Linked DNA regions of Homo sapiens. The protein of the gene in region 2 purifies or fractionates together with the protein of the main gene of each other region. This does not show direct contact. Each region holds a gene or a part of one and is shown on either strand. Other genes may lie near its edges. The genes, in order: PRDM1, SENP1, OTUB2, KCTD13, FAM170A, RNF146 and LRBA.

What was found.
Region 1: the proteins of SENP1 (region 2) and PRDM1 purify together in Homo sapiens (affinity purification with western blotting, with the first as the bait; one study listed by BioGRID). This does not show direct contact.
Region 3: the proteins of SENP1 (region 2) and OTUB2 purify together in Homo sapiens (affinity purification with western blotting, with the first as the bait; one study listed by BioGRID). This does not show direct contact.
Region 4: the proteins of SENP1 (region 2) and KCTD13 purify together in Homo sapiens (co-immunoprecipitation; one large-scale study listed by IntAct). This does not show direct contact.
Region 5: the proteins of SENP1 (region 2) and FAM170A purify together in Homo sapiens (co-immunoprecipitation; one large-scale study listed by IntAct). This does not show direct contact.
Region 6: the proteins of SENP1 (region 2) and RNF146 purify together in Homo sapiens (affinity purification with western blotting; one study listed by BioGRID). This does not show direct contact.
Region 7: the proteins of SENP1 (region 2) and LRBA purify together in Homo sapiens (co-immunoprecipitation; one large-scale study listed by IntAct). This does not show direct contact.

What each region holds. Positions count from the first base shown.
Region 1 is NC_000006.12:106,088,915-106,093,220, forward strand, and holds part of PRDM1 (PR domain zinc finger protein 1), read left to right. Parts: intron 1-4,306. UniProt on the Homo sapiens protein: Transcription factor that mediates a transcriptional program in various innate and adaptive immune tissue-resident lymphocyte T cell types such as tissue-resident memory T (Trm), natural killer (trNK) and natural killer T (NKT) cells and negatively regulates gene expression of proteins that promote the egress of tissue-resident T-cell populations from non-lymphoid organs.
Region 2 is NC_000012.12:48,067,790-48,072,095, forward strand, and holds part of SENP1 (sentrin-specific protease 1), read right to left. Parts: intron 3,933-4,306; coding exon 3,878-3,932; intron 1-3,877. UniProt on the Homo sapiens protein: Protease that catalyzes two essential functions in the SUMO pathway.
Region 3 is NC_000014.9:94,036,340-94,039,839, forward strand, and holds part of OTUB2 (ubiquitin thioesterase OTUB2), read left to right. Parts: intron 1-1,040; coding exon 1,041-1,136; intron 1,137-2,623; coding exon 2,624-2,742; intron 2,743-3,500. UniProt on the Homo sapiens protein: Hydrolase that can remove conjugated ubiquitin from proteins in vitro and may therefore play an important regulatory role at the level of protein turnover by preventing degradation.
Region 4 is NC_000016.10:29,908,701-29,913,006, forward strand, and holds part of KCTD13 (BTB/POZ domain-containing adapter for CUL3-mediated RhoA degradation protein 1), read right to left. Parts: intron 3,350-4,306; coding exon 3,260-3,349; intron 3,168-3,259; coding exon 3,115-3,167; exon of another isoform or gene 2,961-3,114; intron 2,858-2,960; exon of another isoform or gene 2,474-2,857; coding exon 2,278-2,473; intron 1-2,277. UniProt on the Homo sapiens protein: Substrate-specific adapter of a BCR (BTB-CUL3-RBX1) E3 ubiquitin-protein ligase complex required for synaptic transmission.
Region 5 is NC_000005.10:119,628,050-119,632,870, forward strand, and holds the start of FAM170A (protein FAM170A), read left to right. Parts: upstream 1-1,508; 5' UTR 1,509-1,719; coding exon 1,720-1,789; intron 1,790-4,698; coding exon 4,699-4,821. UniProt on the Homo sapiens protein: Acts as a nuclear transcription factor that positively regulates the expression of heat shock genes. Binds to heat shock promoter elements (HSE).
Region 6 is NC_000006.12:127,273,103-127,277,408, forward strand, and holds part of RNF146 (E3 ubiquitin-protein ligase RNF146), read left to right. Parts: intron 1-4,306. UniProt on the Homo sapiens protein: E3 ubiquitin-protein ligase that specifically binds poly-ADP-ribosylated (PARsylated) proteins and mediates their ubiquitination and subsequent degradation. May regulate many important biological processes, such as cell survival and DNA damage response.
Region 7 is NC_000004.12:150,854,422-150,858,727, forward strand, and holds part of LRBA (lipopolysaccharide-responsive and beige-like anchor protein), read right to left. Parts: intron 1-4,306. UniProt on the Homo sapiens protein: Involved in coupling signal transduction and vesicle trafficking to enable polarized secretion and/or membrane deposition of immune effector molecules. Involved in phagophore growth during mitophagy by regulating ATG9A trafficking to mitochondria.

The DNA.
Region 1 (4,306 bases), on a different chromosome or scaffold from region 2:
TATCCTCAAAACTTTGACGTGTTTATGAAGTGAAGTGATGGTATAAGCCGAGAAAGGGGGTCATGTAAAAGTGTCCTCTGTCTGGATGACTTCAGAGCTAACCACTGTTTATCTGCAGCAGCTCCTTTGCTGGGGCTGGGCTGGCAGGCCAATTCCTTACTGGCCTCTGAAGTGGGTACACTCTTTGTTGTTTCAAAGGGGATGAAAACCCAAACTTGGAATGAGCAACTGATTTGTGTTTACCTTTAATATAAAGATTATAGCTAGGCGTGATGTTTAGCTGTGAAATAACTTGCAGAACCACCTCTTGTTTTCAGAATTTGGCTTACTGTAGTTGCACTTACTAGTCTACTACTGGGTTGAGTTGAATGAAAGGACCCCTCAGCAGACTTCCCATACCACCATTAGCACAGAGCACTGTCAATTCTATTACTTCCTTCAGAAAGTAGGGAAAGGGGATGGTTGGCCGTAGAAATCCAGAATTTGCTACTGGGACTATTCCTTACAGCCGTGTCAAATCACTTTCCCCCTTCCCTAAGGAACAGTATTTGAAGGAATCCGGGAGACTAGGAAATGCTTTGTCTCTTTCCTGTTTGTGTGTCTGAGTCCAGTGTTTTTGGTGAGGGGGAGACACAGCTGTCTAAAATTAAATAGAACAACGATGCTCAGTCTTTCTTTTTTCCCCCACTGCTGCGTGAATGGAGGCAGATTTTATAAAAAATAAAATTTAAATTCTAGTTGTAGTTGAATGTTACCAAAAAATTTAACCCCAGAGGTCAGCCTTAATTATACCTCTTCCTGAAAGTAATGCTCTTCTTATAGAAAGTCTCTCAATATGTGGCCCTTGGAATGAATGTAGGATTTGTTTGGGTATATGAGGTTTGACTATGGCTTTAAAAAGTGTAGTGTGTTTTTTCCCCATATCAAGTTTGACCAAATATTCGTCTGTTCCCAAGCTTCGTTTGTGCTGTGTTGCCCTGTCCAGTCCTTTGGGACTGAAGTAAAAATCTCCATTCTGTGGGTCATCTTTGCCTTTTAATTCTATAATGTTCTTATCGTCAGTTCAGCTCTTAGCTTAAGTTTTTCAATTTCCGTCATTCTCCTTTAAAATCATAGCTAAGTCAAGTAATGCTCTTAGATCATTTAGTTCAAGGTTCAGAAAGACAGTCACTTACCCAAAGGCATATAGGTAAAGCCAGACCGGGGACTTGAAGCAAAGCTTTTCTGACTTCTCCAATGAGTGCTTCTCGATTATGCTACACTGGCCCCTCTTGGTGTCACTGTGGTTTTAGTTATCATCTTAATATATTTCAGACCAATCCTTAAGCTATTTTGTGTTTTTTTCCCTCTGAATGTATAACTTCCTATTTCAATATATTAAGCAACCAAAAAACAGACAATGCCTGTGTTCCTGAAGAAGGTCCTTCGAAACTAACCTAAGAGGTGAGGGTTCTCTTATCCTATTTCCCTATCTTGCATTTAACTGAAGCGCTTGAATAGAGGATAGTATGTCTTTAAACCCTAATCATAAAGTCAAGCAAGGAGTAAACTTGAATGTAATACTGTCTTAAGCTTACTCTGGAATTTGTACCTGTTTTTCTGTTTCTCTCCTTTGTTTTTGAACTTTGGGAAAGGACAGCTTCCTTTAGAAGGTGAAAGAGGATGGTGGAGTTGAGCCATTAAGGGTAGGATAGCTGCAAACTAGTTCCGGGACAGCAACATTAAGGATTGATGAAATGTTTACATTATCTTTATTCAGTTAGTTCTTTAAGTTCCATGAGCCATTGAAATAGGAAGAGTCTTTCTACATGTACTTTTTATCTGACTTATTAATCTTGCCCTTCTTTAAATGTTTTCGTTTAAATAGCAAAAGATGTTACAATATGTACTATTGTGCTGACATACCGGGGAATTTTTTTTTTACAAGACCATTTTTCATTATGAATTTGTACCATGTGTCAGCACCTTTTTTTTTTTTTTGGTTAAAACAAAACATACAAATCATATTTCTGATCTTGACCCTCATTTTTAGATTGGGTTTAGAATCATTCTGCACCTTTAATGAAAAACTGTTCTTACTTCCTATTTCCAGAACTGAAATCAAATATAGACCTACTATTCAAAACTTTGAAAATGTTTTAAACTGATGGGTTATTCTTTTATGGGGGTTTTCCCCTTGTCCTCCTGAAATAATCTCTTATGACTACTTGACTACAGAAAAATCAGTTCAAGCATTTATATTTTAGAAGCGTTACCCTGTAGAGTTTCTGCCGTCGGTTGAGACTGCTTGCACTCAAGAGGCACTGTGGCTCTGTGAGTCTCACCTCCCTGTATCGTGGCTGATAAACATCAGACAGATTGTGAGGACTCCTTTGGTGTCCATTCTGATCGAAATCCATTATTAACTCAAGCCATCTGTAAAAAGTATCTCACCATAACATGCAATTCTCTCTTCATGTTGCCTTTTATTTGAGAAATGATGTACCAAGGCATCACCATGTCTCCTTTAATAGAAAGATAATGAAGAAGGAAACCTTCTCCAAACAACTTTGTTCACTTCACTCCTTTTAAAAATGGGGTGATTGCCGGGCGCGGTGGCTCACGCCTGTAATCCCAGCACTTTGGGAGGCTGAGGACAGCAGATCACCTGAGGTCAGGAGTTCAAGACCAGCCTAGCCAACATGGTGAAACCCCATCTCTACTAAAAATACAAAAATTAGCCGGGCGTGGTGGTGGGCGCCTGTAATCCCAGCTACCTGAGAGGCTGAGGTAGGAGAATCGCTTGAACCTGGGAGGTGGAGTGAGCCGAGATCGTGCCATTGCACTCCAGCCCAGGCAACGAGAGTGAAACTCTGTTTCAAAATAAATAAGTAAATAAATGCCATTGCACTCCAGCCCAGGCAACAAGAGCAAAACCCTGTTTCTAAATAAATAAAATAAAATAAAAATGAGGTGATTGCAGGCTGAAGGTCTTGGTCACTACTGAGTTCTAGTTCTCTCAAGACAAATATTCATATGGTCAAAACAGAATTATAATCTAACGAGTCATTCTTATAGAGTGGGATTCGGGGAGGGAAAACAGATAGCTAGTAATTTAAATGATCTTAATGTAATTTGGGGAGAGGATGATCAGATGACATTTAGACTTGGATATAGTTTCTGCTTCAAACCCACGCTGTGTGTGTCTGTTTGCATACTCTCTAAAGAAGGAATTTGAAAAAAAAAAAAAAAAACAAACCTATATTGTCCTTGTTATCAGCCTTCCATTAAGCGCTCCAACTCAACCCATCCTAAGCTGTCAAATCTCCTTCATTGTGTAAAATTGAAAAGAAGCCCTGTGTTTTGTCCGGAAGCTGTGGAAACTGTGGACGGCGGGGTGTGTTCTGTAACTGAGGCCACAGACAGAAACAAATCTGCTCAAGTGGTGGAGGGGTCTGCACCGCACATAAAGAGCTTCTGTGGGAGCAGGTGAAGCAAGGAGGTATTGAAGCCGGGTGTCCTCTTGCTGTTGAGTTTATAGAAGGCACAGAGCGGCCTGTCCCCAGCAGTAATTCTTTAGGACCCTGGTCAGTTCCAGTGAAGTTTCCTTCTTGAGTTAGGTGAACACATTCTTTGTCTTTTTAGCACTGTGAAGTTTAAGCTACACACCAAGTTCCTCCTTAGTATTTGCTTGGTTCAAAGATAAACTGTTACAAACTATGGGTCAGGGAGATGGGTAGTCTAAGATGCACATTCTGGATCTTTCTAGGACCAGAGGGAGACTTAGTACTTGGTTTTTTCACTTCCCTTTAAAAACAATCCTGGTTCCTGTTCCCCCTCCAAAGTTACCTGGACAAGCACCATAGTCTTAGAGTTTCAGCTTTTATGGCGTCTGTGTCTCAGACGTGCATTTGAGATGAAGATGTTTACTGTATATTAGAACGCTAGACTTAGAATGGATATAGGTGGTTTGTAAGTGCCTTCCAGTTTTGAAATTTTATGATTTTGTATCTTTATCTATAGGTGTGAGTTTATATGTGCCCTATAGCACTGTATGTAATTGAAATTTAAAATATTAGGGCGCTCTGTCCCTTTCCTAATGATAAGCTAATATTGAAGCTCTTTAATTTGTCTGGGGTTTGAGGATTATCATAGACCTCTCTTCTACCACAGAGCCTTCTCTTTTTAATTGTTCTCCTGTCTTGCCTGTTGAATTGAATTTGTAAGGTTAGAGATGGCAAGAGCTACTTCCGGTGCTGCTTTATAGCTTACTAGTGATGAGTCTATAGTTGTGCTCAAATAGGTATTGGGTAGCTTATGCTTTCTA
Region 2 (4,306 bases):
TAGTGAGATTCTGTCTCTTAAAAAAAAAAAAATGATCTGCAACTAGAATAGTGCTTGGCACAGAGTAGGCATTTAGTGTTGTTTGTTTGTTTTTTGACTCTCACTCTGTTGCCCAGGCTGGAGTACAGTGGCACAATCTCGGCTCACTGCAACCTCCACCTCTCGGGTTCAAGAGATTCTCCTGCCTCAGCCTCCTGAGTAGCTGGGATTACAGGCACCCGCCACCACACCTGGCTAATTTTTTCTTTTTTTTATTTTTATTTTAGTAGAGACGAGGTTTCACCATGTTGGCCAGGCTGGTCTCGAACTCATGACCTCCGGTGATCCATCCACCTTGGCCTTCCCAAAGTGCTAGGATTACAGGCATGAGCCACCATGCCCAGCCATATAGTATTTCTTGAATAAACAAGTAATGTAGGGACAAGCAGTTTTCTTCAATGGATCAAGGTATCCACTGGCTCCGGAAAACAAAATGCAGGGAAAATCTGCTTTTCCAAAGAGATGCATTATTTCTCATATAATTGAGGCATATAGTAATAATAACTGCAAATGTTTTTGAGCACATACTTAGTGCTCTACATGTAAAACTCTGCTCTAGATGTTTTATGTATTAGTTAAGCCTAATGAAAATCCCTATACTATTTAAACCTCAACATAATATATAAAAAAGAATTATTACTCATACTGTACAGAAATGAAAAAGGAGGTTCAAAAAGATAATTTCTCTTGAAAGGCTAGGATTAGAAATCTTATCTGTCCAATTCCAAAGACTGTGTTCTTTCGACTGTGCCTTTCAATAGATGAAAGCATTAAAAAAAAGCGGGGGAGGAATAAGTACTTGGGCTACTCAAGAGAGCACTTCAGGCTATCTAGGAAATTCATTTGTTTAACAAAGATTTATTTACTGAGCACCCATCATATGCCAAGCACTATGACCAGCAATGGGTGACAGATACAAAAGTATTAGTAACAAACAAGGTAGAAGGATGGAGGGAAAAACTAACATTATCTGGCAAAGTCAAAGAAATCTTCTGAGAAAAAAAAAATAACACCTGGATGAGATTTTGAAAAGCAAAATTAAGGCCAGGCACAGTGGCTCATGCCTGTAATCCCAGCACTTTGGGAGGCTGAGGTGGGTGGAACACCGGAGGTCAGGAGTTCGAGACCAGCTTGGCCAACATGGTGAAACCCAATCTCCACTAAAAATACAAAAATTAGCTGGGTGTGGTGGCATATGCCTGTAATCCCAGCTACCCTGGAGGGTAAGGCACGAGAATCACTTGAACCCGGGAGGCGGAGGTTGCAGTGAGCAGAGATTGTGCCACTGCACTCCAGCCTGGATGATAGAGCAAGACTCTGTCACAAAAAAAAAAAAAAAAAAAAAAAAAAGAAAGAAAGAAAAGGAAGCAAAATAAGAGCTTACCAAGTAGACAGAGAGAGAAAGGGACATCCAGACAGAAGGATCAGAATGTATAAAGGCAAAGAGGTATGACACAGCATAGCATATTCTGGGAAATAAAAGCAGATCTTCATTACTGGAACTTAACTGAGAGGCAGTAGTGGAGAATTAAGAGTAGAGAGCCAATAAACCAAGCCTCAGCAGAGTAGGCACCAACTTTGACAAAGAGCATTGCTCAAACAGCCTTACCCAACAGACCATTTCTCCTGCCATCTCATTCTTTAGTCATCACTAGGGGAAATCCTCCGTAAAGGAAAGGCAGTCTTAGTAAAGAACCATTAAGGAACTGAGATCAACTCTTTACCTGAGAGATCAACTTCTTCCCAAGAAAGTTGCATGCATCTTGTGGCATTTCATGTGAAGCACTTATAAAAATAAGTGTTTTATCTGTAAGTTAATCTTCACAATTAAGTGTAAGGTATCAATACTGGCATTTTATTGATAAGGAAACTGAGGTTCATAAGAGTAACTTGTCCAAAGCTACATGAAGCCTTTTCCAACCCAAGATCAGAAGGCAGATCTGACTCCAAAAAAGATGTAAGAAATAAAGAATCCAAACTATGAAGTCTCCCCAAAAGACTTAACAAATAGAGAATTTTAAGAAATATTTAAAGCTTAGAACATATGGGGAGCTGCAAAGAAGTAGGGGAACTGAGATGAGAAAGAATATTTCATTACTCTTAATCTTCTCAACGGAAAACTGATATTATTCTCATCCTAGCAATTGAATTCCCAAAGCCATATATGGCAAAGGCATAGCAATCATAGTAATGGTTACTATGGATTACTATTACTGTATTACAGAGGAAGAAGTATTTGATACCTCCAGATAAGTAAAGTTTCATGCAGAAGTTCACATGTGAGTTGAGACCTAAAAGATAAAACACTACTGACAGACAAAGTTGAGGTACGGAGGACATTCCAGGCAAAAAGAACACTGAATGTGAAGGTAAGAAATGCTTATTGTATTTGCAAACTGAAAATAGTCCAGCTTATAAAAACACATGAAAGAGTCCCATATTTCCATATGGCTCCCTCTTACCTCCATCATGTCTCTGCTCAAGTCACTTTATCAGAGACTTTCCATGACCACCCTATACAAATAGTATCCTCCCAATCCTACTCTATATATTACCCTGCTTCAATTTTCTTCATAGCACTTATCACAAGGCATATACATTTGTTTATCCTTCCCCTCAAGTAGAATGCAAGCTCCTTGAGCATAGGGACTTCACATTGTCCTTCATCCTTCCCCTCAAGTAGAATGCAAGCTCCTTGAGAATAGGGACTTCACATTGTTCCCTATTATCCTCAATATTTATACTAGTACCTGGCACACAGTAGGCTCTCAGTAAATATTTGTTAAAAGTGAGAAAGTGAGGCTTGTGAAAGAAGTGCTTTGTATACCATAGTAAGGAGCCTGAGCTTAATTCAATGTCTGATAAACCACCCTTGAAGGAGGTTAACAAATAATCATTAAACCCCTTTAATGAATGATCAGACATGAATTCTGAAAGATCACTCTGATTGCAGCATGGAAGATGGACTAAAGAACACAGCAGGCCGGGTGCAGTGGCTCACACCTACGATCCCAGCACTTTGGAAGGCCAAGTTAGGAGGATCGCTTGAGGCTAGGAGTACAAAACCAGCCTGGTCAACATAGCAAGATCCCGTCTCTACAAAAGAAAAATTTAAAAGTTAGCCAAGTATGGTGGCATGCATATGTGGTCCCAGCTGAGGCAAGAGGATCACTTGAGCCCAGGAGTTCAAAGCTCCAGTGAGCCATGATTGTGCCACTGCACTCTTGCCTGGGTGACAGAGCAAGACCCTGTCTCAAAACAAAAACAAAAACAAAAACAAATGAAAAAAGAGCAAGGCAGAAAAATTGTTTCAAGAACATGGTATGGTGGAAGACGGAATGAAGAACAAAATAGAGGCTGAAGGAAGAACAATTATAAAGCCACTAAAATAATTCAAGTAATACGTGAGAAAGGTCTGAATTGAGGTAGTTTTACATTATGTAACTTTTAGTGAAAAAGCTGTGATTAAAGAAAGGGAAAACAATATGTTAAGAAGAAACTTTTAGGCCAGGCATGGTGGCTCACGCCTGTAATCCCAGCACTTTGGGAGGCCGAGGCAGGTGGATCACTTGAGGTCAGGAGTTCGAGACCAGCCTGGCCAACACAGCAAAACCCCATCTCTACTAAAAATACAAAAATTAGCTGGGCGTGGTGGCGGGCGCCTGTAATCCTAGCTACTCGGGAGGCTGAGGCAGAAGAATTGCTTGAACCAGGGAGGTGGAGGTTGCAGTGAACCAAGATCGCGCCACTACACTCCAGCCTGGGCAACAGAGCGAGACTCCGTCTCAAAAAGATATATTAATTAATTAATAAAGAACAAGCTTTTTCCAAAGTTTACCTGGGAGTTGGAGTCTGGGAATCTTTCACTTTCAGTAAAATCACAGAGTCTGATCCTAAAGAAACACAAGAGCATTTCATTAGTAATAAAACTCCACAAAGTTATACTTTCTAGATATCTTAGTTTAAGTTCCCATACTTTGCTATATTTTATTTCCACAAAAATAACATAAGAACAAAGGTTAGATGGGAGAGAGAGAGAGGCAAGTCCATTGTCACTGAGAACAGAAATAGGTCTTAGTGAAGAATTTGCTTCACAAATAAGAAAATCCCTGGGAAATAACAAACATATTTGCCCTTCAGAATTTCCTCCTAGGCTGCACTTGCTCCCTGTGCTTCCTGTCTGTTTCAGGAGAACAAGAACATGGCAGGATTCCTTAAAAGTCTTCATGGTAGTCCTCTATCTGCAATTTTGGTTTCTATGGTTTCA
Region 3 (3,500 bases), on a different chromosome or scaffold from region 2:
TGCTCTATTGCATAAAAATGGTCTCCCTGGGTTGTGTGCAGGAGCCAGCCTCATTTATTTTAAGCTGTAAACTATAAGTGGCTTTAACACCATGTCTCTCACAGTATGTTCATGCTGCAATCAAAGCGGCTCTGGGTGGGTTGGAGGCTAGAGTTGCATCTCCTGCTTGTTTGAGCCCTGCTGACAAGATAGCACAAGGCGGAGACCAGGCCCACGGGGAGTTGGCTGCTAGAACGTGTCTCCTGCAGTTTCCTTCACCCTGAAGCTTCCTTTTGCAGTTGCCTCCTCTCTGTCCGCCAATTTCTTCTCTGGCCTGGAGAGATCCTGCCTGTAGGAGGCTTGTCTTTCTGGGTTGGAATTGACCTAGACCCAGAGCTGGGCTGTAGTGTAAACTTTCGCCGGTAGGTGGTGCATGAAGATGCCCTCCTGCCCTGTGCTCCCCGAGCTCAGATCTCTGACACCTTCTCTGGCATCTCCATGTACCAGTGCCACACACTGCGGCCTCTTCTGGTGACCTTATCACCCCCTATCTTGATTGTTTTTCCCTGTAGACTGTGAGCCTTGTGGGTGAGGGAGTGCTAGACGTCCTTCCTTCTGTATTTCCAGCATGTGACACAGTGCTGGGCATGTGGATGTTCAGGAATTGTTGGATGAGTAAAAGAATGAATGAACGAATGAATGAATGCATGAATGAGAGAAGAGGGATGGAAGGAGACAAAGGGCCTTATCCTCCAGCATGAAGGTTCGTTAAGTTTGAGGTACACATTCTGTGAAATGAATCAGGCTTCCAGTAAAAAGATGAGTTTCCTTATAACCAGGGCTATCTCTTCACGATGGCCCCGACCCTGACTATCCCTGTTCTGGAAATGCGGTGATCCCAACGGGCGTCTAGGATGCTGGTAACATACTCCCAGCATGAGAAGGTGGGAAGGTCTCATTCATTGTTGTCTGTAACCGGCAGTTCAGAGGCCACCAGCTCGGGGAGTCCCGTCCGTTGCTTTTGAAATTGTCACAGCATTTCTTCCTTCCCTATCTTTCAGAGTGAAACATCTTTCAACCTAATATCAGAAAAATGTGACATTCTATCCATTCTTCGGGACCATCCTGAAAACAGGATTTACCGGAGGAAAATCGAGGTGAGGCAGAGGGCAGGGAGAAGAGCATCCGAAACTAAACAGGCTGGAGTTGGGAGTGTAATGGTGATGCCTCTTTGAAGGCCGATAGTTTGGGCCAGGTTCCTGGGCAAATGAAAGGATTCCTAGGATATTTTGATGTTGGACATTTGCCTTAGCGATAAATCCTTTCATTCCAAAAAAAAAAAAAGGATTTTTTTTTGTTGAAAAGTTTAGCACTATCCTAATGTTTTATTTACTCACCAATACTTCATTACAACTCTGTGAGGTAAGTACTTTTATTACCCCCATTTTACAGCTGAGGAAACTGAGGCACACAAATTAAGTGGTGGCCATTTAGTTCATGAGTGGCCAAGCTAGGATTTAAACCCAGGCAGCTGAGTCTCAAGCCACATTCATAACTGCTGTGCTGGGAGACCTCTTGGAGGGAAAGTTTACGCCAGTGAGGCTAAAGGGATTTGTGGGAAGGCTGCAGGGATCGCTCATGGAGCACTCACCCGTGGATGGCAGGAGGAGCTGGGTGCCCACTCTGTCCCTCTGGTAGGAGGCCCTGGCCGCTCTCTGCACTCTGCAGGTCTTCCTCTCGCTGCAGGACAGGCTTGCTCTGGCACTGGCCCCACAGGCCCTTCCCTTCAAGTTCCTCTCAGACACGCAGCACCGTTGCTGGGCCTCATTACTTATCCTCAGAGACTCTGATAGGTCCAGCTTGGGTCAGATGTCCATCAGCAGCCAGGGGTAGTGGTGTGGGCATCATGTGATCCGAACGCCGCTGCGGGGCACTTCCAGGGAAGGAGCTGGGCTCTGCAGCCCACTGACTTTTGTGTCCCCCAGAGCCCTCCTGGGAGATGAGCCAGGGGCTCCAGAGAGTGCCTGCCTCCCCACTGCCAGCTGGCCTCAGGTGGGCCCAAGTCGGCTCTGAGCCTTCTCATGGCTATGGGGGGAACAGGAACTCCAAGACCCCTTGAAAACCATCCTCTGCTGTCAAAATGCTGCTTATAGTCCCATGAGGCAGGAAAGGGGATTCCAGGCCAGTTCAGAGGGACACCTACTTACTGCTAGGAGTGGAGCTGGAGCCCACCCCTCCCGCCCCTGCTCACACATGCAACCCCCTACCCCCTACTTCTGCCAGCTCCCGATTCTCAGTGCTGCTCCCCCAGGAAGGCTTCCCCAACTTCCAAAATCCAGTGCAATGCCAGTGCCCCGTGGCACCCAGCCAGGCACTCCTGTCCCCTCACAATGCCACTGTCTAATTATCCATCTTCCCTCCCGGACCGTAGGCTGCCTGGGGGCAGGGACGGACACACAGGACAATGCAGTGTATTTTTATATCAGGGGAATGAACGAGGGTGGGAGGCTGAGGGGATAGCAGCCTGAAGGGAGGGAGCAGACATTTCCTGGGAGAGATGGGGGGCACCTGGCCAGTCCCAGTGCCCAAACCACACAGAGCCGTTGTTGGTGCAAATGCCCACATTTCTTTCTGTCCCCCTCAGGAACTCAGCAAAAGGTTCACCGCCATCCGCAAGACCAAAGGGGATGGGAACTGCTTCTACAGGGCCTTGGGCTATTCCTACCTGGAGTCCCTGCTGGGGAAGAGCAGGGAGATCTTCAAGTGAGTGCCGGGGCCCCTTGGCCTGTCAGGGCTGTGTTCTCTGTGCTAGGTCAGCCTCAAGTCTCTCGGAGGTTTTCGTTACACTCAGGCTGGTTAACCCAGAGAATGAGCTGAAGAGCTGCCTGGCAGAGGCGTTTGATGTTGGGGGTGCCCAGCTGCCTGCTGTGGTGAAGTTGGGGGCAGCCAAGGGGTGGAGGATGGAATCTGTGACCTCCCAGATGCTTTCCAGCCTCTGCTTCCACCACAGGCCTGGGTCAGCCCAGGTGAGTCGCAGGGAGCAGGTACTTCGTGACCCACTCTGAAAAGAAAAGAAAAGACAAACAAAAAGAAGCTTTGCCCCGGTGTTCTGCATAATTCCTGTTGACCTTGGTGTGGAGTGTGTGTGACCCAGGCATTCAGCTGGCTGGGCCTGTCCCTGAGGTTCATGCTGGAGAAGGTCTGTGTCCAGAGCTGCCCCTGTCATCTCGGCTAGTTCAGGGCTTCTCATATCTGAAGTTTGTACAAGGCGCCTGGTTCTCTAGTCCATAGCAAGAAAAAAAAAAGCAAAGACAAACAAACCCCTGAGACCTGGCTTGGACCCGAATTCCTGTCCAGTGGGAGCAGGGCAGAGCAGGGACTGCTTTTGTCACTGGCTCCCAGGAGATGCTGATGCTGCTGGGCCTCAAACCACGCTTTGAGGAGCAAGGAGCTAAGAGACCCACCTGGCTCTTAACCTTTGGGGGTCTCAGAGCCCTTAGAGGCTTTGGTGAGGGCCATGG
Region 4 (4,306 bases), on a different chromosome or scaffold from region 2:
ATCGTTGTTTGTTTGTTTCTAAGACAAGATCTCACTCTGTTGCCTAGGCTGGAGTGCAGTGGTGTGATCATGTATCCCTGCAGCCTCAACCTCCCGGGCTCAAGTGATCCTCCCACCTCAGCTTCCTGAGTACCTGGGTGTACCACTATGTCCAGTTAATTTTTTTTTATTTTTTGTAGAGATGGGGTCTTGCTGTGTTGCCCAGGCTGGCCTCAAACTCCTGGCCTTAATGGTCCCCTGCCTCAGCCTCCTAAAGTATTGGGATTACAGGTGTGAGCCATGCACTCTAATTATTGGTTTATCTTCCTATCTTCCCAATCAGAGGATGTTTCTTGGAAGCTGGGTCACTGATTCATTCATTCATTCATTCAATAAATGTTTCCTAGCTTCCACTGTGTGAAAAGGGCCCAGCTAATGGGAGATAGGAAAGAAAAAGACATGGCCCTGCCCTCAAGGAACTAACACCTCGCTGCTGATGCAAACCCCCTCCCCTCCACCACACATGATAAAACACTGTCTTTAGCTATGAAGGGAGTGTGACCAACTTTGGGGTTGCTGGATTGAAAGTTCATGAGTGAAGGTGACCCAAAGAAAGTGATGCTTAGCTTGAGTCTTAAGATTAAGTACAAGTTCATTAGGCAGATAGAAGGAAAGAATTCCAAGAGGCAACAGTGTGTGCAGAGGTAAGAGGTAAGAAATAGCACTGAGTGCTTAGAGACTTGTGATGACTGTGGTGTACCTGAGGCATGTGGCTCATAGTAAGCTCGGAAGGGACCAGATGAGGAAGGGCTTGTATTTTGCTCAGCACTTCATTCCCCTTGATTTCCAGCCCGGTACAGTACTTAGCACAGAGCAGGGGCTTGGGGAATATCTTGATGATTGCCACATTAATGACTCAGGATCTACAAACTCAGAGGATGTTCTAAGAGACATCTGATTCTGAGGTTTTAAGAATCTATTTTTGGCAATGGGCCTTTCTGAGTTTCCCTTTTTTTTTTTTTTAATTAGAGTTAGGGCTCACTCTGTCTCCTAGGATGGAGTGCAGTGGCATGATCATAGCTCCCTGCTGCCTCAAATTCCTGGGCTAGGGCGGGCCCGGTGGCTCACACCTATAATCCAAGCACTTTGGGAGGCCGAGGAGGGCAGATCACTTGAGGTCAGGGGTTCAATACCAGCCTGACCAACATGGCGAAGTCTCTACTAAAGAGACTTCTCTACTACATTTAGTCTCTACTAAAAAATACAAAAATTAGCCGGGCATGGAGGCGGGTGCCTGTAGTGCCAGCTACTTGGGAGGCTGAGGCAGGAGAATCACTTGAATCTGGGAGGCAGAGGTTAAGTGAGCTGAGATCACACCATTGCACTGCAGCTTGGGCAACAGAGTGAGACTCTGTCTAAAAAAAAAAAAAAAAAAATAGGCTGGGGGCAGTGGCTCACGCTTGTAATCCCAGCACTTTGGGAGGCTGAGGTGGGTGGATCACGAGGTCAAGAGATTGAGACCATCCTGGCCAACATGGTGAAACCCCGTTTCTACTAAAAATACAAAAATTAGCTGGGCATGGTGGCACGTGCCTGTAGTCCTAGCTACTGGGGAGGCTGAGGCAGAAGAATCGCTTGAACCTGGGAGGTAGAGGTTGCGGTGAGCGGAGATTGTGCCACTGCACTACAGCCTGGTGACACAACGAGACTCCATCTCAAATAATAATAATAATAATAATAAATAAATAAATTACTGGGCTCAAGCAATCCTCCTGCCTTAGCTTCCTGAGTAGCTGGGATTACAGGTGCATGCCATCATGTCACCAAGCCACCACACCTGGCTAAATTTTTTGACTTCTTACAGAGATCAGGTCCCACGATGTTGCCCAGGCTGGTCTCGAACTCCTGGGCTCAAGTGATCCTCCTGCCTTGGCCTCCCAGAGTCCTGGGGTTACAGGCGTAAGCCACTATGCCTCACCCCTTCTGAGTTTCTAATGGCAACTATGGACCCCCTATACAGAAAAATGCATACACCCCCATTTCAGGAGTTGCAAACAGCCTTGAAACCCATCCAACAGGCCTAGGCTAAGCACCCTGCTCTAACCCGTGACCCCCATTTCACAGAGAAACAGAGACCCACAGGGATAGGGTGGCTTGCCCACTGTTGTGCACCCCAGACCCCAGGATCTGGCTCCTGCCTCCTGGTGGTGGGCTCCTTCCCCTGCCAACCTGCTTTTGTCCAGGGTCCTGGTCCTGGCCACCCCCAGCCCCCAACATAGGCTCTGGAGCCCCTCTGACCTTGGTCTGCTTCTTCTCCGTAGCATAGACAATGGAGGTGCAGCACACCTCGGCGATTTTGCGGCCCTGCCCGTAGAAAGACCAGCAGCAGATCTCGTCCCCCAGGACATCCTTGAGGAAGAGTAGCCGCCCGTGGAAGCGCAGGGCCAGCTTGTCGAACAGCTCGATGTTCTTAAGTAGGTTGTCATCTGAAGTGCTGGGGACCAGGGGACCAGGAGGCCTCAGCGCAGTTGGCACCCCTCCCTCTGTACCCCCAGAAGACGGGCCTGGATGCATTCCCAGTCCTCTGCTCCTGCCCAGGGCTTTGGTGCTCAACAGAGAGCCTCCTCCACCCCTGGGGCCAGGCTAAACGGGTCTCAGAAGGGAAGCCACATGCGCTGAGCAAATCCCAGCACAGCACAGCACAGCAGCTCCAGTGAGGGACCGGGAGCCAGGCCACCTCCCCGGGGGTCCTGGTGTCCCCATTTTTTAACTGGGTGACACTAGGCAAGTTACTTCACCTCTTGGTGTCCCGACCTCCTCATCTGTAAAATGGAGCTCACAACAGTACTGACCTCAAGGGGGAGGACTCTGCCAGTTCCTAGAATGAGAGCACTTGGGATAGGCTCGCCACTATCACTTTGTCCTCACCCAAACCCATTTACTGATGACTGAGCTGAAGCTGAGAAGCAGAAAGGACCTGCCTAGAGCGTCAGGGGTAAGAGGCGAAGCCGAATCTGCGAGCAGGCACAGATGTTCTTGTAGGCCCCCCGTGTGGCCGTGGCCCTCGCCTTGGGCAGAAGCAGGGCTGTGCTGCATCCCAGGGTCCCGCCCAGTGCCCCGCACCCCGGCGGTCACCTGGTGTAGGAGTACTTGTTGTTACTGCGGTTGTGCAGGAGCTTCACCACGGGCTGGCGGGGGAGAGAGGATGGACGAGAGGGGTGAGGCTGCAGGGAGAGGCCCCCCCAGTGAGCCTCCACCCTGCAGGGCTTGGGGGCCTCACCTTGGAGGTGCTGGCCAGGAGCTGCTGCTCCTCCCGGGGAGATGTCACCATGGGGATGAGGCACAGCGGGGACAGCGTCTCCCTTTTTTGCTGGGGAAGAAGCGGAAGGTGGTTAACAGCACAACCAAAGGCCACGTACTCCCCCACTTAAAAGCCTTCAAAAGCTGGTTGGGAACAACTCCAGACTCCTCAGTGGTCCGCAGGGCTCTGCAGGCTCCAAGCTCCGCCAGCCTCTCTGCCACTCTCCCTTTGCTTGCTGGGCCTTGGTCCCACGGACACCTTGCTGCTTCACACATCCAGCTTGTGCCTGCCCCGGCCACTGGCTGTGCCCCTGCCCGGGATGCTTCTTTGCTCAGCTGTCAGCGTGGCGTGTCCGTCATGCCATTCAGATCGCAGGTCACACAGTGCCTCCTCAGGGCCAGCCCTCCCCAGCCCCCCTGGCTAAAACAGCCTCCTCTACATCCTGCCTTTTGTGTTATCAGTTTTCTTTTTCTTTTTTTGAGACAGAGTTTCGCTTGTTGCCCAGGCTGGAGTGCAATGGCGCCATCTCGGCTCACTGCAACCTCCACCTCCCGGGTTAAAGCAATTCTCCTGCCTCAGCCTCCTGAGTAGCTGGGATTACAGGCATGTGCCACCACACCCAGCTAATTTTGTATTTTTAGTAGAGACGAGGTTTCTCCATGTTGGTCAGGCTGGTCATGAACTCCCGAACTCAGGTGATCAGCCCGCCTCAGCCTCCCAAAGTGCTGGGATTACAGGCGTGAGCCACTGCACCAGGCCTATCAGTTCATTTTCTACACAGCAGTTAGTGTCTGACTTTTTCTAACTTTTTGTATTTGTTTATGATCTGTCTCTTCCCACCTAGGAATAACTACCTAGTATACAGCTGATGCTCTGTATTTGTTGAATGAATGAACATATTTGTTGAGTGAATGAACTTCATTGGGTGGGATGACGTTGGAGAAAGAAATCTGAAGCAAACCCATGGGCTTCTTTCTCTTCTGTCTTCTAGAATCTTCATGCCAAAATCCCTCTCACTTCTCCCAA
Region 5 (4,821 bases), on a different chromosome or scaffold from region 2:
CTTTAAGAAACTGGAGATTTAATCTCATCAGCAAATTTTTACAAGGCTACATTTGCCCTATCTTCATTCTCCTTCTGCCTGGGGACAGTCTGCAGTGCCCTTTCAAATTTGGGCCCATCTTGGTCCTCTGGGTATTTCTACTGCTTTTTTAATGCAGTGATTTCTGGGAGTCCCCCTCATACTTGTCAACTAATAGTCCCACTGGACTGGGGCCACTGCCCCAAATAAGGTGTCTCTAATTTTAGATTGGAATCAGGAAGATCCAGATGGGTTGCCACTTATAACTGGTATACATTTCAGCCCATGAGCAGAGATGTGCAGGAAATAGTATGCAATTTTCTTATGTAACTCCATTTAATTTGTAATTTAAGCCTTGGTTCTGTTGATGTCCTCTTTGGATTTCCACCCCTCCCTATTTGGAAATCATACAGGGCTGAGGTTTTGAGGGTGGGGTGAGAGCATAGTCTCTGGTTATTGGAGCATACAGCTGAAGTTTAGATGCCCATCAGCTCAGCTGCCAGGGAGTCTTTAGGTGGTGTGGCTCCTATGCCATGTGTGAGATAGGTCGCCATGATTCTGCCTGTACGCATAATACAGGCAGCCCTTCTTGAAGTTTTTGCCACATGTACCTCTTCAGCCACATTTTAGAGGGCTCCTCTCCTCCATAGTTTGAAGATCCCTCTCTCTCTCTGACCTAATCAGTACCTCTCAACACTATAGTAGAGCAAGAAGGGGGCATGCCTAGTTAAAAAAAATCCTGCTTCCGTTATGTTTCTGCTAACTTTCCTCTTTCCTACAGAGTTTGAGATTTTAGAAATAAAAGTCAGGTGGGGTGTGGTGGCTCATGCCTACAATCCTAGCACTTTGGGAGCCTGAGGCAGGAGGATAGCTTGAGGCTAGGAGTTCAAGACCAACCTGGGCAACATACTGAGACCCTGTTTCTCAAAAAAAAAAAAAAAAAAAAAAATTAGCCGGGTGTGGTGCCTCGTGTCTGGTGCCTGTTGTCCCAGCTACTCGGGAGGCTGAAGTGTGATGATCACTTGAGCCTAGGGGCTGAAGTGACCCTATGATCACACCACTGCAATCCAGCCTGGGCAACAGAGAGAGACCCTGTCTCTGAACAAACAAAACAAAATAAAAACAACAAAAAAAAAAAAAAGAAAGAAAAGTCAAGATGATTAACATGCTATTGCTGCTTTCAGCCCTGCCATACCCCTCCTCTGAGCAATGAACACAAAGCCTGCTACCTGCTTGAGTCCAGAAGGGAAAGGGTGAAAAAAAAAGAAGAAAAGAAAAAAATTAAACAGAACATGTTAACATCTCAAAATATTCTGCCACATTTGAAATACGGGAGAGTTGAATTCATTAGAGGACTTCTATTGGAAAAAAGGAATTGTTTTTGAAAATGATGTCTCTGCAGTTGCACAGACTGTGTTGGACCTAGGTCCGTAGAACGCCGTGATGTCATCATTGATGTCAGAGAATCTGCGATGGGCCTGGTGACCTTTGAACCTTAACAGCCCTGCAGTGTAGTGGGCACTGGGCAGTGCTGCTCCTTCACTAAGCGGTCTGAGTTCTTTAGCTATCTCGGAGATTCAACTACGTTTACTCGTACTGAATCTTTTTAATGAATTTCCTGAGAGCCAAGAAGGGCCAATCTACAGGAAAAAGTGGGAGGTGGACATTAAGCATCTTCTAGAAACTCTTCTAGCTGATATCATGAAACGACGACAAAAGAGGAAACATTTGGAAAATGAAGAGTCCCAGGAAACCGCTGAGAAGGGAGGAGGTATGTGCGGGGCAAACTTTCTGGGGCACAAGCGTCACTGGCCAGCCTGAGCCGCCTTCTTTTTCTTTTTTGAGACGGAGTCTCGCTCTATCGCCCAGGCTGGAGTGCAGTGGCGCGATCTTGGCTCACTGAAAGCTCTGCCTCTCGGGTTCACGCCATTCTCCTGCCTCAGCCTCCCGAGTAGCTGGGACTACAGGTGCCCACCACCACGCCCGGCTAATTTTTTGTATTTTTAGTAGAGACGGGGTTTCACCGTGTTAGCCAGGATGGTCTCGATCTCCTGACCTCCTGATCCGCCTGCCTCGGCCTCCTTTTTTTTTTTTTTTTCGTTTCTGAGACAGAGTCTTGCTCTGTCGCCCAGGCTGGAGTGCAGTGGTGTGAGCTCGGCTCACTGCAAGCTCCGCCTCCCAGGTTCACGCCATTCACCTGCCTCAGCCTCCCGAGTAGCTGGGACTATAGGCGCCCGCCACCACGCCTGGCTAATTTTTTTTTTTTTTTTTTTTTTTGTATTTGTAGTAGAGACAGGGTTTCACCGTGTTAGCCAGGATGGTTTCGATCTCCTGACCTCATGATCCACCTGCCTCGGCCTCCCAAAGTGCTGGGATTATAGGCGTGAGCCATCGCTCCCGGCCAGCCTGAGCCTTCTTTAGGGAGGAGAAACTGAGGAGAATGTACCACCTATGCAGTAGGGAGGGGAAGACCTGGCTGTTGGCTGATGCCCGCACATCCATCTTGAGGGTACCCAGATGTGAGACGGACAGGAAGTTCAGATGCCACTGGCACACAGAAAGCCAACCCTGCTGGGCTGAGAACTTTTGCTCTGGGGCTGCTGGTACCTGGAACTATGCCAGTCTCAGGCAGGCGGGGGACCCACTTACAAAGACCCAGTGATGCAGCCTGAGTCTCATCTTTCTCTCGTATTCTCTTTATTTGCTCTTTCTCTGGGGTGACTGAGGTGGAAGGTGTGAAGGGTGCTGGTAGAAGTCTATGATTTGCACTACACCTTTTAGCAGAAACGAGAGTAGCCCAATGAGTTAAAGGCCTTGTTGAAAAATATCTTGAGAAGTGAAATGCTTGTTAGAAAGTAGATTAAACACTTGTTTAGGGATGGCGTCATAGTGAAACCACGGAGGTTTGATTGCTTCAGCGGGAAGAATTAACCAATTAATCCAATAGAGTTTGTGAATCCACAGTGTGGGACTTCCCAGAGGAAATGAAGCACAGGGTAAGGGCCTCAGATCGCTGTCAATTTACTTCCCAGGCTGCATGATAATGGCATGTATTAAATGTAAACAAGCCACTTATCCTGAAAGGGGGATGCTCACATGCAGGAGACAGGGCAGAAAGGAGCCTGCCCCAGAGATGGCCCTGGAGGCTTCTGCCCCGATTAGAGCTCAGCAGCGCCTATGAGGCATAAAGACCTGTAGGTTGAGCCCTGGGAATGGAGGCGTGGAGAGTAGGCATGGAGAGCAGGGGGCTGGGACAGGAAGGGGAAGGCAATGGTTTTCCTCTCCTTCATCTACCCTTACATTTCAGAATGTTTTGTCTGCCTGTGTGTGTGTCTGTGTGTGCACATGTGTGTGTGTGTTGGGAGGGGGAGGACTGGAGATAATGGGAGCACAGTGGTGGGGTCTGCGGGGTGAACTTCCTATCACCATGCCTGGGCCTGGGCAACACTCAATACACATAACAGTGTATACCGAATTTTTGTTAAGGGTATTCCAGGAGACAGTCACTCATATGCCCATATATACTCTGATACAGAGAAAGAGTCACACACCTCCACACACAGTGGATATAGTTATATACACATACCGTTCCTCTATTACATACTCACACAACCCATGTGTGTGACAGTCTTTTCTTCCTACAGAGATTTCTTGTGTGTGGGGAGTGTGTGTGTGTGTCTCCTCAACTCTCACACAAACACATCTATGTTAAACTATCTCTAAATACCTCTTTAAGAGCCAGTCACACATCATACATGCCATATCTGCAACACATTGTGTAGCAGAGCCAGGCCTGCTTTGCATAGACCACAACGAAACAAAGATTCACCACCATCCCCTTATTAGGGTTGCCGGATAAAATACAGGATGTTCAGTTAAACTTGAATATCAGATAAACCACCAATGATTTTTTAGTATAAGTGTGTCCCAAATATTTTATGGAACATACTGACACTAAAAATAAGTATGACAAATATTGCACGGGACATACTTACGCTAAAAAAATTATTTGTAATTTATCTAAAATTCAAATTTAACTTGGCATCAGCTATTTTTGTTTGCTAAATCTGATGACCCTTATAAATTCATAATGAGCTGACCTATGATATACTTATATATTTCTGCTTAATGTCTGTCTTCCTTGTCTAGAATGGAAAGTCCACTTAGAAGAAGGACTGTTTTGTTCAGTATTCCTAGAGCCTAGAAGAGTGGACTGGTGTCTGATTCATGGTAGCTGTTCATGAAAATATTGCCAGATGAATGAATTAATGTACATTATAAATACAAGCCACACCATACAATCAGGAAAAATTACATATTGCATAATTTCAGGGTTGTAAACACAAAACTATGCACACAAACTCCACAGACACAGACACATGTTTCTACAATATACCCACACAAATCTACACATATCAAAGGCTATCTGGTATGTATCACTCTTACGCTTCAGACGTACTCATAGTCACCACACAGGCCTATGTTCCTATTGATACACTATCAAAATACCTGTTGACTGTAATTAAATACTGGAGTATCCACCAGAAGCCTGTCTCACAAACCATGTGTGTTCACTACACCTGACATAGGTCAGCCACTCAGTAAATATTTGTTGGATGGTAAATGATGCACAAACATTACCCATCCATCATATCTCTGTTCCCTTCATACCTTTCTCAGGAATGTCAAAGTCCCAAGAGGATGCCCTGCAGCCTGGATCCACTAGAGTGGCCAAAGGCTGGAGCCAAGGGGTGGGAGAAGTTACTTCTACCTCCGAATACTGCTCCTGCGTTTCTTCTTCAC
Region 6 (4,306 bases), on a different chromosome or scaffold from region 2:
TAGTGGCACTTCACATGGGTCCCATGGTGTTATTCAAGGTTTATGGTATTGTACTAAACATGATGAAAAATACACAAGAACAAGAGATTACATTTTACTCCAATACATGCAGAGATGATTAGTGTCCACAGCATTTTAAGTGGAAATTCATAATAGCAACAGGAAATTATTACAGTATGTACTACAATTAATTTTATACAGCTATGATTCATACTGCATCTTTACATTTGTTTAAATTTCTTGTACCACCTCAAGTGGCACCATATGTGTCTGTGTTTACTAAGTTTTGATACACTTTAACTTCTTATAATTTCTCTATATTTTATAATACTAAATGATAAAATAGACTATATATGTTTTATGCATTCATAATATACCTAATTTTTTCTTTTCCTTTTTTTGATGTTTCAAGACTACATGATTCATCTGCAAGTTTTTTCAAATTGTCACAAATCTCCAAAAAAATTTCCAACATATTTATTGAAAAAACTGTATGTATATAAGTCAACTTGTTCATTTCCAACCTGTGTTGTTGAAAGGTCAGCTGTATGAGGTTATCGTCAAAGATCTTTAAAGAAAGAAATGACATCATCAATATTTTGAAAATTAGAGAAAGCCATTTCTAAAGGAATCCTAGAAATGACTTCAGGCCAGAATTAGAAAAAAAAAAATTGAAGAAATAGGCTAAATAAATATGTCTTTGGCTGTGTTCTTTTGAAAATGGCATTAATGTATAGAAAGATACTCGAATGTGAGTTATGGTCACTGATACATTCTTTTGTTTACTGCTGAACATAACTGGACTAGAGGAGTGTAATGAGGGCAAGGATGTTCTTTCTGTTGAAGGAGAAAGTTTATATTGATGGAAAGTCATTATTCATAGATACTTTGCTGTTATTTCAGTACTATTAAGTAAATAGTTCTCTGCTCCTGGGTTTGTGTGTGTGTGTGTTTTCTTTATAAGGGGCTTTTTCAAATAATTTTGCTATTGATAAGTTACTTGAATTTAATCATTAGTCTTCAAATAAGGAAAGCAGAATGAGAGAATGCATCTCCTTGAATTAACCAGATTTTTTTTTAGTACCTTTGTTCTAGTGGATATGTAGCAAAGCTTTTACTTTAATATTTGTGGCTATAGCTTTATTTCAGCTATGTGAAATAGTTTTATAGGAAAGATCACAGCTTATTTGGGTGTTCAAATATGGGTTCTTTAGAGGATTTTTTTGTACTTATTTTGAAGCTGCTTTGTTTCAGTTAACTTAGATTCCTTTAAGAATCAACTTTTGTTTCAGAGATAAAATATTTATGGATAAGACCTAAGTAAAGTAAGTGAATAGAGAGGAATAAATTAGATTGGTTACAGATAATGTGTAAATGCATTCAGGAGATAAGGAGAATTAGAAACAAGGACATTTTTTGTGTATTTCTTAGGAATAAAATGGTACCTTCTACACATCTCAATTATTAAAGTACAAATAGTGATTGAACGAAATTTTTAGAAGAAATGTTTTAATTGAATCTTCACACTAGAGGTTTTACCATTCAATCAATTAGGTTCTGAGAAGGATGGATTGGTACATCTTAAAAGACTTGTAAGATAGCGAAGGATAGGCAGTGCTAATGACCAACAGCAACACTCAGCAGGACTTTGTGGACCAAAAAACTTCAAGTTAGAATTGTGGGTAAAGGCTGGGCATGGTGGCCCTCACCTGTAATCCCAACACTTTGGGAGCCTGTGGTAGGAGCATCACATGAGGCCAGGAGTTTGAGGTTTAAGTTACCTGCAGTCATACCACTGGACTCCTGCCTGGTTAACAGACGCTGTCTCTTAAAACAAAACAAAACAAAAGAATTGTGGGTAAAGTAAGAGCAAATTGACTTTTGAGTGATGGTCCGAAAACCTTTGTGATGGGTAAAGGGTAGAATGTCTGTATAATTTTTCTGAACTGGAACACTTGTTGGGAGACCAAGGGCAAACTGGATAGATGCTGGGCTGACCTATGTGGTCATCCTAGTGAAGAATCATAAGCTTTATTGGGGAAAGAGCTTTGTGAAGCTGTTTTGGCTGTTCAGAAACCCATCTTGGTTTATGCTTAGATTTTTATCTCCATTTTGGAGAATTCATTGACAATGAACAATAGCTGGGTAAATGATTTGCTTGCCAAAAGATACAAAGATGGGTTGAATTTTATATTTGTAAATGTAGGAACTCCTTTAGATTTTAAGTTATATAAAGCAAGGATTAGAACTTAGATATTTTTATGTATCTTACAGATTCCAGCTTGAGTTCACAATTAGAACTCAAGTGTTGTGTTATTTGAATAAATCTAATCCTTTGATATTCTGTTCCTCACAATAGTTACTTTTAGGAGTTGATTTTTCATTCATCCAAAAAATATCAGTTCAACAAAAATTGATTGACAATTTACTAGCTATTTAAAGATATAAAAATCTCCCTATCTTCAGGGGATTCATGATTTCACAGAAGAGTCAGACTTCACAAATGAATTGAAATTAGTGCATGTGATAAATTCCGTAATAGAAAAACATACAAAACATAGAGGAGAGAACAGTTAACTTTCTGGAGGTAGTCAGAGAAAATGGTAGAGATAACCATTTCTGTGTAATATATTAAAGAACAAATAGGCATTCATAAGCTGTAAAAGGGAATAGATCGTACCAGGCAGGAGGAAATACAGAGCTACAAAGGGAGGTTTGCAGGACTATGAGTAATTTTATACAACTAGATTATTAATCTATGGGTGGTTGTTGAAGATAAAAAAGACTAGAGACTAATTATTTACAGTTTAGATCTTTAAAACCTTTTAATGTTGTCCTAAGGAGCTTTGTCTTTATTGTGTAGGCTGAGGACCCAATATTGTGCTTCACATATGGAAGAAACCTGGTCCATTTTGCCTTTTAAATATATCAGTCAGTCCTAGCTACTTGGGAGGCTGAGATGGGAGGATCGCTTGAGCCAAGCAGTTTGAGGTTTTAGTGAGCTATGATCATGCCACAGCATTCTAGCCTGGGAAACAGACTGTAGAGTGAGTGTATGTGTGTGTGTGTGAGAGAGTGAGAGAGAGAGAATCTCACTCAAAGGCTTAATAAATGAGGGTGATACTGACACAAGATAATCAGGCTGAACAATAGTCCAGGTGAGAGTTATGTAGGTTTAAACTAGGGCACTAGCAATGGGTAGAGAGTACAGGATAGATTCCAAAGGGATTAGGAATAAAAGTTGACAGAATTTATGGTGTGGTTGGTTGGGGTGGGGGAGCAGGGGGCTGTGTGGTGAGAGAAAGGACTTTCTCTTTTTCTCCATGAACACAAAGTAGTTAAGACATGAAACCTGAGATGTCATATTGTAAGAATTATGCAGAAATGGGGGTTTGTAAAATGTGTGTATATGAGATAAAGATATGAGGGGGCCAAGGGTTCTGTTAAGAAGTAAAAAAGATTGGGTTCCAGAATGGGCAGGAAAGGAAATGAGATCAGGAACTGGATAAAGGAAAGGAGATGGTCAAGAGATGGTAGGTCCCCATGAAATTGAAGAGCAGGTGTGGGAATGAGTAGGCTGGAAGAACCAGAGCTTGTGATCTGAGAGTCGGATTAAGATTTCAGAGAGGCAGCAGTTTAGGTGACAACTAGCTTTAAATGTGATTATAATATTTGGTTGCTGGAGAGTAGATTAATTTCTTCAAATTTAGGATTTAAGGAACTGAAAATTGAGGATGGTGTTTCTCAGATTGTATTTGAAGGACTAAAGCATGAGTACCACCTGGGGTGAGATTCCTAGGTTTAAACCTATGTCTACTGGCCTAGAATTTCTAAGGAAAGGGGCTGAGAATATGTATTTCTAACAAGCAATTTCAGTGATTCTGATGAATAGAAGTTGGGACAAGTTTAAGAACCTGTGCAATAGGTGTTGGATGGTTCATTTTCAAGGCTATTTAAATAGGCTGATAGTCATGTCAGGAGTTAGGATGAAGAGGATGATCAGTAGTGAAAAGATGACATTAATCCCTTACAGGTGGTGAGAGAGCAGTTTTAGGGGATTATGGGGTATGTTAAAGTCAGTGTGATAGAGACTTGAAAGAAAAAGTAATGATGTTGGAGCAGTAAATTGTCTCCTCCTGTCCTATATATAGGGAGTGTATGAAAATGTGCAGTTTTCTGTTTGGCGTAGGCTGCAGCAAGGAAATGAACATAGCCTTCTTTGATGCCATTGAAGTTGTAGGCTCCTTGAAGTTGGTGAAAGGGTTGAGAGGAAAGTCAAAATAGTGGAGTCCATTTCATCTAAAGT
Region 7 (4,306 bases), on a different chromosome or scaffold from region 2:
CCTCATATTCATTCAACAAAAATTTACTGAACATCGGTAGCAGGCCAGGCATTGTGTGATGAACACATTGTTCCTGACTTCATGGAGCTTATATTCTAAAGAAGGTGTCAGAAAATAAACACACGAATATGTAAGATAATGTCAAATAGTAATAAGAGCTTTGAAGGGAGGGGGAAGTACAGAGTGAAGAACTGTTCTGAAAGTCTAGGCGAGAAGGTGTATTTACTAGTGTAACTGCAGTAGGCCTCTCTGTTCTATTTGAACAAAGGCAAGAATAAAAGAGAGAGCAAGCCATGTAAAAAGAAAAGAGTTTCAGGCAGAGAAGAACAAATGCAAAGGCCTTGGAGCTGAAATAAGCTTGGTATGTATGATGAATAACAATAAAGCAATAAACTGAGAACTAAAGAAAATGAGGTCAAAGATGTGGCCACGAGCTAGATTATGATTGTAGAACATTATAGACTGTATTAAAGACTGTATTTTATTCTGAGAGAGCCATTTGAGAATTAAGAGTGTAGGGAAGACAATCTGATTTCCCTTTTTAAAAGATCAGTGGCTGGGCACGGTGGCTCACGCCTGTAATCCCAGCACTTTAGGAGTCCAAGGTGGGCAGATCACCTGAGGTCAGGAGTTTGAGATCAGCCTGGCCAACATGGTGAAACATTGTCTCTACTAAAAACACAAACATTAGCTGGGCATGGTGGCACACACCTGTAATCCCAGCTACTCAGGAAGCTGAGGCAGGAAAATTGCTTGAACCCAACCCAGGAGGCAGAGGTTGCAGTGAGCCAAAATAGCACCACTGCACTCCACCCTGGGTGACAGAGTGAGACTCTGTCTCCAAAAAAATAAGACTGGTTAGCCTACTTTTTGGAAAACTGACTTTAGAGAGAGCATTTCTCCACCAACAAACAATTATCATTGTCAAAAGAAAGCAAGTTACATATTACCAACCTCACAGTCATTTTGAAAATAGGCCATTTATTTCTACAATAGCCTGTGTTATAGAATGACTTTAGTTTTCAATAATCATTTGCTTTGATTTTATTTATATTAAAGGTTTTTAGAATTTGTATTATACAATGGATCAATAAACATGAGTATATGTAATTTATATGTACAGGTTAAGAAACAATTTTTTTTAATCTCACATGCCTACCACCCATGTCAAGAAGTAAAACGTTACCAGTACCTCACAATTCCCCTATGTGCCCTGCCCAAACTGTACTCCCTATTTCTCCACTACAATCAGAAAAAAATCACTATCCTGGTATTTCTATCGTTCACTGTTTATAAATAGTTTTACCTGGAGGTCAGAGCTTTGGGAGATAATTTTAAAAGATAGTTTTACTATCTATATACTAAACATACCCATTATGTTTAGTTTAAAAAACTAAGTCTAACACAAACCTAGCCAATTGTATTTTAAAGAGCAATACTGCCACACCTGAGCTCCCAAGAAAAGACAAGATACACAGAATCTGTGAGTTGCAGCAGGGCTTCAGCTTATTTGAGAGAATATGTAAAGCCATTTCTGGGAAGTCTTATAGGCAAGTCATTAGGAAATACAGGAAATATAGAGGTCAAGAGAACTGGAGAACCTATCAGAGGCAGTGTGTGCCAGGTAGAGTGTATTGGCATGAAATACTTTATATTTTTCAATTCTAAGCTCACCATGGTGAACCTCTACCCTAAGAAGTAGGTCGAAGCACAGCATGTCTTTGTGGAGTGAAGTGAGAATCTTCAGGTGATTCACATTAGACAGGAAAACAGGAATTTAATCAGCACATGATGAAGGCAAGCAAGCTAAGTACTCCTAATAAGAATACAGGTCCACCTCTCCTGAGTGAAACTGCTCCAGTCCAGATGGACTGTCATCTGCCTACTACATAGCTGCTATTGGGATCTCCCTTTCTACAGTCCTGGAGATCCCCTTCATCTCTCTTCTATGTTGTCTCTTGTTTCTTATATTTCATTTCTTCCTCTTTGTATTATTCTCTCCTTTTGTGCAATATCCTGCAGTGCCTTCTTAAGAAAGGATGTATATAAATGTTTTGAGATCTCAAATCCTGAAAAGGTATTTATTCTCGCTTCATACTTGATTAATAGTCAGAGTATAAAACCACAGATAGAAAAGCATTTACCTTCAGAATCTGAAATGCTTTTAAAATTCTAAAGTCATTTGGTTTTTAAATTTGCCCTTAATTTAATTCATCCAATGGTCTAAAAGCTAAATTGCAATTGAACAACTATCAGTATTATCTTTTTGGATGCTGTTTTCCTTAAGATATTTGTGACTTTAAAACTGATAATTTCCAATTAATTGCCAGATATTGTTCTAAATTACCCAGCTAAAAGACTAGTCATTAATCTTCACAATCATTTGATAGCTAATCTATAGCTGTTTGTAATGTTTGGAAAGCACTTCTATAAACTACTAGTTAAAGATACTTGTGAGCTAATGACTATAACATTTCTTTTGCCATTATTTTCAACTTAATTGGCACTCAAATTTACTAATTAGTAGATAAAAGATAAACACAATACATCCAGATGTTAATATTATCTTTTTAATCTATACATTAAAACCGTATAACCTGTAAAATTTAGACATTTTAAACTGTTAGGCAATGTTTAGCAACTGACTTTGTTTTTAAGCAAAGGCATCTTTTTCAGTGTCTGTTTTCATATGAAAATACCAGCTAAATATGATGTTAACTTCTGATTAAGTTACCAACCTTTGATAAATAAGATATATCTTTAAAAACAGGTGGATCTTCCCATATGTATTATCAATGAGCATAAGTCAAAATGATTGCCACCACATTAATGAGATCTTTTATAAAGACTCTGATGTATAACAATGGTATAGGTAACAGATATAATGGTAAAATCAAGCATTACTGACATAATTAAGAGCAATTCTAAAGGTTGGTAGTACAATCCCCATTTATAAAGATAGGAAGAACACTGACAAAAGAATATTGCAGCAAATAACTTCTAATCTTTTCATTTTTAAAACAGTCATTTTGATCAATTTTAATTTCTTAAAAACAGTCTAAACAGATGCTTTCATGCAAATCTAGCGTATAAACTGGTACAAATTTTTAGAGGGCAATTTAGCAATATCTACTAAAAACTTTTTAAAACATGTACAGACTCCTTCCTCTGGAAATTCCACTTACAGGAATTTATCCTACAAAATAAGGGTTACAGTATTGAACCAGGCTCATCATTGGTCAATGATAAGGAACAGATAAAGTATGATTATAATATAAATCAATAGATTTTTTAAATCTCTCTTCCATCAATTTTTCTAAATACAATTTTGGAGAATGCCAGAATATAAAAAGAAAACTTGAATCATTTACACGGTCACTCCTTCCTAGAATTTTAAGTGGTCTGATAACATTCAAATGTTATATCAAAGCTGAATCTTATGCTCTTTACTTCTCCATAATGTCATATAATATGCAGGCATTAAAATTCATGTAAGAAGCATATCATTAAATAATACTCTAAAATAGTAAAAATACGATCACATTTTGTTAGCAAATAATTATATGTTATGTATAGATTCATGTATAGAAGAGAAGACTAAAAGGTCTCGCACTAAAATGTTAATAAGTTATACATAGGTGTTTGGATAATGGATAATTTTTGTTTTCTGTGTGTATGCATTTCTGCTGGGTTCAAGATTTCCTGTAATGAAAACTTATTATTATTTTAAATTTTTTAAAGTAATAAATGCTATTTGGTTTCAAAATGTTAAAGCTAAGAATACTTTTAGCCAGGAACAAAGGTACATGCCTGCAGTCCCAGCTACTGGAGAGGCTGAAGGGAGAGGATCACTTGAGCCAAGGAGTATGAAGCTGTAGTGTGTTATATATAATGGCACCTGTAAAGAACCACCGCACTCTAGCCTGGGAAGCACAGCAACAGTCTGTCTCTCTCTCTTTTTCTTTTTTTTTTTTAAGTGCCATTTAAATTTGATAAAAACACACACACAAACACTCACACAGAAATCAGGTATTTTTAAAGAATTATTTAGCAATTAAATAAGGTGCAAAGTGCTGATAATCCATGAAATGCGGACATTTTGTAACTTTTTTATTTTTGTAATTTTTGTGAGATATCTCCTTTCATCACCCAGACTGAAGTGCAGTGGCACAATCTCAGCTCACTGCAGCTTCAGCATCCCGTATTCAAGTGATTTTCATGCCTTAGTCCCCAGTAGCTGGGACCACAGGCATGCACCACCACTCCTGGCTAATTTTTGTATTTTTAGTAGAGACAGGGTTTCACC